Regions from separate parts of the Homo sapiens genome. Here region 1 is linked to region 2. Evidence: fine-mapped expression QTL. A gene starts in region 2. The other region holds a variant in brackets. All regions are shown on one strand. Distances are from middle to middle. Region 1 has its middle 7.6 kb from the start of IFNA8. Region 2 holds the start of KLHL9 (kelch like family member 9).

What was found. PIP is the estimated chance that this variant, and not a neighbour inherited with it, causes the effect.
Region 1: its variant is the best candidate, but not a certain one, in a credible set for the expression of KLHL9 in whole blood (TOPMed, PIP 0.79).

Annotation. Positions count from the first base shown.
Region 1 is chr9:21,400,031-21,402,954 of GRCh38, forward strand. No RefSeq gene overlaps it. Among named protein-coding and RNA genes, the nearest start is that of IFNA8, 7.6 kb to the right of the region's middle. The variant A/G (reference allele first, on the strand shown) is at 1,164.
Region 2 is chr9:21,334,149-21,337,072 of GRCh38, forward strand. It overlaps KLHL9 (kelch like family member 9), which reads right to left and starts at 1,256. Exons shown (of 1, transcript NM_018847.4): 1 at 1-1,256. The coding sequence starts at 711. It overlaps LOC107987053 (a long non-coding RNA gene), which reads left to right. Exons shown (of 3, transcript XR_001746634.2): 3 at 2,473-2,924. RefSeq lists enhancers at 686-735, 926-1,235 and a silencer at 1,276-1,445.

The sequences.
Region 1 (2,924 bases), 66 kb after region 2:
GTGTTCACTGCATATACGGGACAAACAATGTGCTTGGCAATGTGGGTTCAAGGATAATAAGACAGGATGATGATTGCCCTCCAGGGAGCAAAAGCCAGACATTAAAGACACGATTATGATTAATTAAGCACTAGCATTCTCAGTGCTGCCAAGAGGAAGTACTGAGAGCAAATCAAGAGGGGAGTTGGAGGCAGTAGAAAGCTCCACTTTCTGACAAAATCTGTGACTCTTAGCAAGTTAAACATCAGATTTTCATTTCCTCTTCTGAAAAATTCAGAATATTTTAGTAGTTGTCATATTAGAAACTGTAAAGATTAAATGAAATAAAGTTTGGAAATTACTGGCTGAGAATCTGAACATGATAAATTATAGTGATGTGGTTTGGCTGTGTCTCCACCCAAATCTCACCTTGAATTGTAATAATTCCCACATGTCAATAGTGGGGCCAGGTGGAGATAATTGAATCATGGGGGCAGTTTCTCCCATATTGTTCTCGTGGTAGCGAATAAGTCTCACAAGATCCAATGGTTTTATAAATGGGGGTTCTCCTCCCTGCACAAGCTCTCTCTTGCCTGCCACCATGTAAGACATGACTTTGCTCCTCATTCACCTTCCGCCATGATTGTGAGGCCTCCCCAGCCATGTGGAACTGTGAGTCAATTAAACCTCTTTCCTTTATAAATTACTCAGTCTTGGGTATGTCTTTAGTAGCAGCATGAGAACAGACTAATACAGATAGTAACCTTTAGTATAATCTATATAGTTTGCATTTGTGAACTATATAGAAAAAATATATATATACATACAACCATGTATTTATAATCTGTATAGTCCATATTCAACCAAGTCCATCCAAGAAAAGCTTTGATTGCAGCTCCCCTGACACTCTCAGGGTCTTGCACATTGGCGCCTCCTAAATGGAAACTCTAGGAGAGGAAATTGTCTGTAAGACTGGAAAATATTTTAAAGAAGTTTATTCTGAGCCAATATGAGTGACCATATCCTGGAGAAACAGTTTTAAGAGGTCCTGAAAAAGTGCACCCAAGGTGGTTGGGTTATAATTTGGTTTTAGACATTTCAGGGAGATACGAATTGCAGGTAAAATCATAAATCAATACATGGAAGGTATACAGTGGTTTGGCCAGAAAAGGCAAGACATCTCA[A/G]AGTGGGGATTTAAAAGTCACAGGTGGGTTTCAGGGATTCTTTAGCTGGCAATTGGTTGAAACAGTTAAGCTTTGTCTAAAGACTTGAAGTCATTAGAAAAGAATGCTTAAATTAAGATAAATGGGTCTGCAATCTGCCATATGGTATTATATGAGAGTTAGGTTAGAAAGTGAGCCACATTTTACTGGGTTAATTTTTAAAAATCCATTTAAGGAGATTTTATGGTTTGCAGTACATAACTCTCGCCTTGCATGGCCTTAGGTCTTGCTTATAATTTGGTATCTTATTGCCACAAAGTCTGTTTTGTCTTATTATCTCTCTTATAACATCAATGCTGGCCAGTTTGTGTCCATACTCCAAAACGGAGGGGGATATAATGAGGCGTGTCCATCCTGCTTCCCATCATGGTTGAGAATTCAGTTAAGGTTTTTAGGGGTTCCATTGGCCAAAAGGGGGCATGTTCAGCCAATGGGTGGCTTAGTATTTTATTTTTAGTTTTAGTTTATAACTCTATATCTATATATATATGTAAGTATATGTAGAATATATACTTACATTTTATATATTATGGGTATTTAAATATATAAATATATACATATGTTATAATTTTATATAAAGTATATGCTGAAATATATAAATATGTATACGTAAGTATTTAAATGTACAGAAACACACATATAAAATAGATCAATATAAAAATATATATCCTTTATATATTTAAAATATATACTTAAATTATCAACTCAAATACTATTTTAATACAATATTAAAATTGGAAATTAATGCCTAAACATCCATGATGAGGCAAATATCAAAATTTTAATTAAGTAAAGGCAGGAAATGTAAGATGACCCTGAGGGTCTTACAAAGGAGAGGGGCCAGTGTAACAAATTATGGCAAACTCCACTCAGGCTATAAAATTCTTACCCTAGAAAATAAAAAGTTCTGACCTGCTCCTCTACTCTTTGTAGGCAACACTGCTCATTTCTCTTTTCAGCAACACAAGTCAAGGTGGGGTCTTGAGGAAGGGCTTTCAGTAAACCAAAGTTAAATAAAATTATCTCAGTGTCACTGAGTCACTGGAAATGTCAGACATGGCACTTCTCCCAGATAAAACAAAGTAGGGATCTTGAAAGCATTGCTGAGTTTGCTTCCTTTAAAGCTAGGGAAGTAAGATCACAACATTCTTGTTTTGGTATAAAGTATTTAAAATAATGCTGTTGAGTTTTAACATACCTGAATTATGGTTTCAGCGACACTGGCGTCTGAAGCTGAAAGCTTAGCTCCTGGCACACCCTGGGGCAGGCACGGGCGCCTCTCTGCTCCTGGCCCGGTGCGCGGCGTCCCCAGCCCCGGGCGCTCCCAGGACCCGTCCGCTCGCCCCAGGGTCCAGCGTGTCCCCTTCCCCAAGACGTCCCCGCCCTGCGCCCCCACACAAACGGAATCCCCAAGATTAAACCCGTGCGATCTCGAGCCCTCAAGTCCCGGAATCAACGGGTCCCTCTGTAAAAACAAGTCTCGCTGAAGTCTCTATGGGAAATAAAAGCCCCAAACCCAGGGGAAAATCCCGAAAATAAAAGGTGCCCTGCTGGCTACCTGAGGAAGATGTCTCAAGGGAGACCACGGCGGAGCTGCCTCCTGAGCAGCAAAAGAGATTTTTTTACTCAGGTCGAAGCTGCACAAAGTTGGCGCGATAAGCCGCGACGACGTTTCCCTGGGGCTGCGGGACGCCCCGAAACTCAAACCCGCGGTTCCCAAAT
Region 2 (2,924 bases):
CATTAACTTTGCAGCATAATCCATCCGAGGGTCTTCCAACCTTAGCCAGCGACAGGCTGCCTTAAAGAGTTCAAGTTCGGTACAGTGCTTAAGACTATTACTGGAAAGCACAAATGCAAGTCGTTCAAAAGGGAGTTTTAGAAACTCCCCAGTACTCAATAAAGCAGGAAAGTTCTTCAGGATGAAATTATTAACATATTTATCCACTTCTATAAGATTGTAGGTGTTAGCAATTCGTCCAACCTCAACACAGTTATCCAAAGAGACTCCTGATATAAGAAATACTTTACAGAAATCCAAAACGGGTAATATTTGTAAAAAGCTAGCAGCTTCAAGTGTGTCCTGAAGATTGTCCATATTAAGAGAAAGTTTTGCAGTATAAATAAAATCAATGATTTTCTTCAGACCAACCTTGTTCACCCCATGAAGCTTAATGCACATCAAATCTTGTTCTTTCATTCCACCTGTGAACATGGCTTTGAAATAATCACTAGCAGACGCCATCATAGCTCTGTGAACAGGGAAGATTTCATCTCCATCACCTGGTACCAGGGTCACATCACAAAGCAATCCTTCTATTCTAAGCTGATCAAAGCCTTGCAATACCACCGAACTGTGAGTATTGCTGGTAAAAAAGCGTGTGGTTCCTGCCTTACAAGGCTGCAAATGGGCAGAGACGCCCATTTCGCCGTTACCAAGGGACACTTTCATGTGAAAGCTTTCCTCTTGCACAGAGATGCAAGCCGGATAAAGAAGTTATAACCGGAATGTTTTACAGGTAACGAGGTGTCCAGAAAGAACAGAAAGCTCGTTTCCTTATCAAGGGAAGGCAGTCACTGCGGCACCCCTCGGGCCACGCCAGTCAGTCATCCACTGAAAATCACCCTGTAGCAGGACCACAAAGGGCTGTGGACCTCAAATCTGATTATTAGACAGATGATTCATCACCTGAAGGCGGTTAAATGACCTGGTTCACCTCGTCCGGCCTGCGCTGCCGCTCCTTCAGCAGTTCCGCTTCGGGCAAGGAAGAGGCGCCGCCACGTACTGTGGCTCCACGGCCCGCTCGGCGGCGGGTCCGGACACCTCAGCGAACGGCCCGCTGCGCCCTCCGCTGTACCTAGAGTGTCGCAGCGGCCACCGGCCTGTCTTTGAGCAAGGGCCGGGAACACAGGCCTGGGCCTGGGCTTGGGCCTAGAATACCGGCCTAGCCCCAACACCGAGCCGCTCCTTCCGGAAAAGCCTAGTCCCAGGATACCACGGGGTGGGAGCGGCCTTAGCGGCTACTGCGGCTGCGCGGCCTCCAGACCTCGTCAGTCAGCGGGAGGGTGGGGGTGGGGAAGGGGGAGGAAGTACCCGGGAGGCGGGAGGGCGAGGGTTGGGGAAGCGGAGCTGTGTGGGGTGGGCGCCAGCCCGGCCTCTTAGAGCTGCCTTGTATGTGGGACCAAATAGGACAGAATGTGTGCAAGCAAGTGTGTTATGCTGCACGTTTGATATAAGTTTTTCGCATATCTGAGCTCTTACGTTCCCCAAATGCATAATTTTTCAAAGCTTTACGCTTCCTAGCTTCTGTTTTTTTGAATAACAGTGAAATGCGGCATTTGTATAAATTGAGAGGAAACCTGGATGCTTAATTTTTTTTTTCCTCTACAAAACAATAATTGTTATCCCACATTATGTAGTAGATACTTCAGTTACAATTTTGGTTCATATTTTCAAATTTGTTACAATTTCAAACGCAAAATATTTGTCTTTACTAGATTGTTACTTTATTATGTAAATGATATATTCTAAATTTTTGGCTTGAAATGCCTTTGTTTTCCACAATTTTAAAAATGGCTACATAATTTTCCAATAACTATACATACTATAGTTTCCTTTGCCCATTGGTTTGTTCCTGAATGTGTACCTTCTTATCCTCCATTGTTTTATAGACTCGGTAGTAAACTTATACAATCTGGTAGCAAAATTTTAGCCCTGTTATGGATAATATTTAGTAAAATACTGATCCAAGACAATATTTCCAAAATATTATCACCAACAATGTTTGTGTCTTTCCCTTCTTCTGACTTTTCCCTTTGTGAGTATTTTATTAACTTGCATTTCTTTAATTAGTGGTAAATTTAAATTTTGACATACAAATAAATGTATACTTTGACACAATTTCTTCCATTTTCCAAATTTTGAAGTTTCTGTCTTTTAAATCCTTCTAGTTCTTTATGCATATGCAAAGTAAGAATGTAGTCATGTTTTTCTTACACTCGCCTCGTTTTTATGTAAAAGATAGCATACCATGTACACTGTTCTGCATCTTTTTTTTTCACTTCAAGATCTTCCTGAATTAGTGTAGAGGGCTTATTTATATTTTTAAACAATTCTGTTGTTGCCTTCTGAGTTGTTACATCATAAGTTATTTAACCAGTGCCCTGTTGATGGGCAGTTCATCTGTTTTGAATGTTTTCTATTGTTTCCAAGGGATGGCAGCAAAATTCAGAAGGCTTAGACTACCACTGTCCTCCACAAGGTGCTCCAGCAGATTGTCACCTTATTCAACACAAGAGGTTGGTTGGAATGAAACTGGCCTGGAGAAATTATTCACTGAATTTTTATCAGCATTGGGAAGTCCTGGAGCCCTGCTTGTTGAATGAGTTAGGGGTGGAAGGGCTCTCTCAGGCCATGACAACTCCCTAATGCTGTGAAGAGCTACTTCCAAGGAATCAGTCTCTATCTGGAAAAGAAAGAAGAGAGCCTCTGTACATGGGAAGTTGGAGCAAGAAATCATGAGATCCTTCTTTTTTTCATCAAACTTGCAAGTAAGATTAATAGCTTAGGAACAGACTTGTGTCTTCATGAAATGATTACTATAGACACTCTTCATTATATTCCCATATGTTTAGTTATTTTAAAAGACTATCTTTTCTGCCTGC